Linked DNA regions of Homo sapiens: region 1 is linked to region 2. Evidence: fine-mapped expression QTL. A gene starts in region 2. The other region holds a variant in brackets. All regions are shown on one strand. Distances are between the middles of the regions. Region 1 overlaps CSPG4 (chondroitin sulfate proteoglycan 4). Region 2 holds the start of SNX33 (sorting nexin 33).

Region 1 (2,830 bases), 39 kb after region 2:
AAAGCATAGGTGCTTCTGAAATGTGACTCCCCGTCTCCTCTCTGTGTATAACCCCCAGACTGGGAGTCCCCAGGGCTCCCTCCACTCTGCCCCCAGAGCTGGGCTGCAGCCCCTGGGCCTCTCTCACAGCCATACCATTCTCCAGGAGAAGGCGCTGAGGGTCCTGGCTTGAGGTCCGTCCTCCTTCTGCAGGGCTCCATGCTGGGGTGGCTCCAGCACCTGCAGGCTGAGGCCCAGGAGAGTGGGGAAGTAGGGCCCGGAGACACGGAGCAGTGGAGGGGCCAGGGTGAGGCTGCCACCCTCAGGGACGCTGAAGTTTTGCGCCTCTAGTGGGATGGCAGCGGGCAGCACCTCCAGCTCCACAAGGACGCCCTCGAGGGGAGCACCCAGGCCTGAGGCCACATCCAGCGAGAAGGCATCGCTCCAGGCCTCAGGGCGGGAGTGCAGGTACAGGACCCTGCCTGTGTCCACTGCCTCCTGGGAGAAGCTCTGCACAGGGTCCAGGCTGGGTGGCTCATCTGCCAAGGCGCCACGCGACACCATCACCAGGTAGCCGGCACTCGGTGGGCTCTTCACTGAGAATACGATGTCTGCAGGTGGCACTGCCTCCTGGGCTGCCTGGTTAACAGAGGTCACAAGGACTCACAGGGGGCCACAGAGGGGGTCTCAGAGGGGTCCACTGTGGCCCTAAGAAGCCGGAACAGGCTTGATCTTGCCCCACTTATTCCTCTAGATACCACTGCTCATTTAGACACACAAACACACACGTGGGTTCACACACACAGCAGCCAGACATGCAGCTGGTCACATTTTTTGTTTTTTGAGACAGGGTCTCACTCTGTCACCCAGGCTGGAGTGCAGTGGTACAATCACAGTTCCTTGAAGCCTCAACTTCCCAGGCTCAAGGGATCCTCCTACCTCAGCCTCCCAAGTAGCTGGGACCACAGGCATGTGCCACCAGGCCCGGCTAATTTTTAAATTTTTTGTGTAGAGATGGGGTTTCACTGGGTTGCCCCGGCTGCTGGTCACATGTTAATGCCCACCCCACACACGGTTGCAGGGGGTCGGTCACACAGCTTGAGATGCACTCCCTCAGGGAGGTGCATAATCACATGTCCCCAGACTCAGTGACACAGACACACGAGTTCATCATATGCTGACGCAGTCACACATGTACACATGCGTGTGTGCACAC[A/G]CACACACACAGGCCCCCCTGCTCAGGATCCGTTCAGGCCTGTGGCTGGTTTGCAGGCAGCACCTCCCCAGCCCCTGCTATTACCACCCAGGACCATCAGAGGGCGCCCCGCCCCACCCCTCCTGGAGGCACAGCCGCCTTCAGCTCAGGCCCTACAGAGCTCACGCCCCAAAGGCCACACGGGCTCCCTCACCTGATGGGCCAGCCACAAGAGGCCAAACCACCCCCCAAACTCACATTCCTGTTCTATGCATTTGCCCGGAATGTTCCTTCTGCCTGGAATACCACTCCCCATTCTCTGCTCCTGATGGCCTGTGCTCTTCAGAGCCCGGCCCAAACGCTGCCTCCTCCCGCGAGGCCTTCCTGACTCCAGATCTGCTGGCTTGCTGTCGGCCCCAAGCTCCAGACATGCAGACCAGAAGGGTCTCCGAAATGAGCAGTGTAGGAGAGTAAGGCCAAGAGCGGGCAAGGACTGGCCTGAGGTCACAGGGCAAGTCAGTGAGCCTGCTGGAGGGCCCGTGGTTGCTCTGTGGGGTTCCTGGGTGGGCAGAAGCCACCCAGGTCTGGGCTCTGAGAAAAGAGTGGGGGACATGAGGGTCTGAGGAGTAGCGGCCTGTCTCCACGGTCAGCAATCCCCAAAGCTCAGGACCCGTGATGTCCTCCCAGGGAACTGACTGCAATGGAGATTCTCGGGCTCCACGTCAGAGATTCTGTAGGGCTGGGTGGGGTCCAGGAATCTGCATGCTCAGCCATGTCATACACATGAGTGGACACAACCTCTGGAGGCGCACACAACTCCCAGGAGGATGGGTGTATAGCAAGCTCCCCAGAAACTCCTGGGAGCACAACATATACGGGAGCACATCTGAGGCACGTGCACACATGTAACCTGGAGCCACCACAGCCACAGCCCAAGTCACGTGTGTTCCTGGCATGGAGGCTGGGAGAAGGCCCTCTACCTGGCCCACACCCCTGCTCACCACCTCCAACTCCTCACCTCCAGCTGGTCCCTTCTGATCTCAGCTGCCTCTCCCTGGAAGACGTAGATCTTCTTGTGCCGGACCAGCTTCAGTGGGGCCAGTGGGCCCTCTAGGGCAATGGTCACTTGTAGGGTGGCATCCGTGTGCACTGGCCCTGCTTCCACGGAGAAGGCCATGGTGTCGCGGGGGCTGAGGCTGCCATTGTGGCTATAGAGAACGGCCCCATCCAGCAGGTCCTGCTGGGAGAAGGCTGTGGCTGGCTGACCAGCCCGGACTAGCTGTCCCCAGCGAGGGCCAGCTGTGACGTGGTAGTGGACCTCATCCCCACTGCGGATGTCGAGGTTGGTGTCCAGGTGGAGCACGGCCGTGTCGATGGTGCCCTGGCCTCCTTGAGGGACCACAAGGCTGGAGCCGTTGGCCACACGGAGGTAGGGTTCCGAGGCCTGCACCTCCAGCAGCGCAGTGGCCTGGTGTTGCCCGTCGGACACCTGCAGCTGGATCCAGCCACGGTCAGCCCCTGAGTGCACGAACAGTACTCGCCTCTTCCTGAGGTCCTCCTGGGTGAAGCGGTAGATGGGCCGCGTGGGCTCATCTACGGCCACGATACTGCCAAAGAGGAGGTCCTTGCGGGTAAGCACCAGCTGGGCGTCAGCAA
Region 2 (2,861 bases):
CTTAGAGATGCTAGGACGAACTGTCTTTAGAATGAAGGCTGCCCCATGACAGGAAGCAAGGTTTTAAGGTTACTTGACTGAGAGACTCCTCATACCCTTTCCCCTCTTGGGGGTTCCAGACTCACTGAGCTAACTTTCTGGTAACTGGGCTTCCCAAGGGGTAGCCCAAACTGCCTTGATCTATTGATGCAGAAATTCAGTTCTGCTTGACAGTTTTATTTCTCTGTGCAAATTGATACCTAGCCTTCTGGGGTTTGTACATAGGCCTTTATTCTGGTCAAATGCCAGACCTGCGAAGGGAGTCGGATCCACTCACTGAACCAGTGAAACTGGGTTTTGGAGCCAGAGGTCTGGGAACCATGTCCCTCAAAACAGCCAAAGGTATCCATCTTTAGCAGAACTACCTTGTACCAGTTAATCTGCAATAAGTGACTAGGGAGAGAATGAAGGGAAGATCTAGCTAGACAGGGTAGACAAGACTCCAGGGTATAGCCAGGAAAGGGAGTCCTCCTGAAGCCTTTGCCTCATCTTAGGCACTTCCTCCTTCAGGAAGCTTTCCTTGATCCTTGCTCTACCCAGGCTGGGGTAGGTACCCTCATGTGCACTTTTCATGGCACTAACTAGTCACACTGGGCAGGGAGCATTTGTCTACTTGTCACAACATATCTGAGCTTTTGGAAAATAAGGATAATGTCTTATTTGTCTTTGTAGCTCAGGGGCCTGGTGCAGAGTAGGTACTCAGTTAATGTTTCTTGAGTGCATGACTTGGCTGAATGAATGACTGAGACAGAATGGATTGATTAAAGACAAGAGAGGGTGGACTGTAAGCCCCCCAGGATAGAAACCCCGACTGCCTTGTGGTGTACTACTCCCCAGTGCCCAGCACAGTGCCTAGCAGAATCAATGCCCAAAGTGTTCCCGATATGCTGACCGAGGGTCAGATCCCACTTGCCTCTTCTCGAAGATTCTCTACCTGACCACTTCTCTCCTTGCTGCCGCTGGCTAGCACAGAACATCCAGTCCCCGCTGCTGTACTAAGCAACACGGAACCGGGTGGCACCTAGACTTGTTCCCTGTCGCTGCAGATGTAGAGTAGTGTCTTTCCCTCCTTCCAAGCTAGTCGCCCAGGGCAGGGTCGCCCTGTCTGGCTAGGGTGCTGCACCCGCAGCTCTCGGTATCTTAGGTCAGACGCCTGGAACGCGCAGGCCGTTTCTGTTCCTCCGGAAAACAATCTCTGAGCTGCGCCACGACCCGTCCCTGCGGAGCAGGAGTGGGGAATGGGAAGGTGGGAAGGCGAGTCCGCGACTCTGCTCCCCAACCCCAGCTGGCGCGGCGGCTTTCCACGCACCCCCCTCCCCCCACCCCGATCTCCCGATCCTGGCTCTGGCGCGGTGCTCCTTGCAGCCCCACGCTTTGCAAACTTTCGGAGTTTTACTCCATTTGCGTCACGGAAAAGGCAGGAGGATGACGGAGTCCAGGAAGCGAGGCAGCGGCAGCTGGCAAGCTCCCCCGCCGGGCGCTCCAACCACGGGGGCGTGAGGTGTCTCCCGGCGAGGGCGGACAGGCGGAGGGAGAGGAGGGGAGGTGGCGGTCCCAGGGACCAGCCCCGGAGGCTCTCGGGCCCCCTCGTTCCCGGGTCGTTTCCTCCCTCTCGCCTCCCGGACTGAGCGCCAGCGAGCGAGGGCGCTGGCCAGCTGGGAAGCCGCGCGGAGGAGTAGGCGGGGGCTCGGCTGCAGCGCCCCGGGCCCGCGGGAGGGCGGAGCTGGCCGTCCCTGCCCCGCCGGGACGCACGGAAGTGCAGCGGAGTTTGCCCGATTCTCCAGCCTGCTTCCCCCTCCCTCCTCCCTCTCCCCACCCCTCACCTCCCCTTTGGCGATCCCCTCCTTCCTCAGGACGCCACCTCCCGGAATCGCCTTTTTGTTTTGGAGCTGCCTTCTCGCTGGCGGAGCGGAGGGTCTGCGAGCGCCGGGGAAGGCAGGCTGGGGGCGCAGCCCGCCCCCCACTGGCCGGGCCCCGCAGGGCGGAGAGGAGGACGGACGGACAGACGGCTGGCCGCGCCATCTGCTCGCCGGAGCTCACTCTCCAAACTCCAAACTGTTGAGTGTGTGCGTGCACGCGAGGGTGGTGATCGGGGGTCGTAAGTCCCGGGTGAGGAACCGGTTTCTGCTGGGGTTACCTTTGGACGGGGTTCCTGGGATTCAGAGCAGGGTCAGCGTCAGGCTCAGAAACTGCTGAGGAATTAGGCAAACAAAAGAGACCACTCAGCGAGTGGCTAGAAGTCGCCCGACAGCCTCGTCGCGCCCCCTCCTTCCTCCGGGGTTGGGGCTGGCCACTTCTGGGGCGGGGAGAGGGCGCCCGAGCCGGCGGGGGCTCCGGCTGCGCAGCCGGGGTCGAAGAGTTGGCGGCCTGTTGTGTAAGCCTCAGTCCTTGTTTTCCCGGCCTGGCTCGTTGTGAAGCCGGACACATCCACCCTTGGACTCGATTCAGGCGGCTGCTGCTTTTCTCCTTGCCCCTCTTGGATTTTCCGGATTTTTGAAAACCCAGTGGCCCAGGAGCAAGAGGAGGAAGGAGGAAGGGGCAGATCTGCAGAGGAATGTGAGAGCCTCCCAAAGCGAGAGCCGCCAAAAGAATCTGGGAGCCAGAGGGACAGCCGAGCCCTGCCCGGGTTTCTGGAATGGTGGTTTCAGAGTGAGTCTCTTCTATTTTAGAACGTTGTTCCAGTGGAAAGTGTCGAATTTTTCCCCTCGCAGGGCAGATTTCTCCAGGTCACTTGACTTTTCTTCTGGGAGTAGGAGTTAGGAGAGATTCCCCTCTAACCCCCCAGAGGCTGCTAAGGGAGGAGGAGACTGTGGACATGAGCC

The links. PIP is the estimated chance that this variant, and not a neighbour inherited with it, causes the effect.
Region 1: its variant is the best candidate, but not a certain one, in a credible set for the expression of SNX33 in whole blood (INTERVAL, PIP 0.81).

The regions. Positions count from the first base shown.
Region 1 is chr15:75,685,084-75,687,913 of GRCh38, forward strand. CSPG4 (chondroitin sulfate proteoglycan 4) reads right to left here. Exons shown (of 10, transcript NM_001897.5): 3 at 2,193-2,830; 4 at 136-618. Among named protein-coding and RNA genes, the nearest start is that of CSPG4, 26 kb to the right of the region's middle. RefSeq lists enhancers at 1,098-1,603, 1,604-2,108. The variant A/G (reference allele first, on the strand shown) is at 1,196.
Region 2 is chr15:75,646,001-75,648,861 of GRCh38, forward strand. SNX33 (sorting nexin 33) reads left to right here and starts at 1,912. Exons shown (of 2, transcript NM_153271.2): 1 at 1,912-2,861. RefSeq lists a silencer at 1,531-2,070 and an enhancer at 1,696-2,387.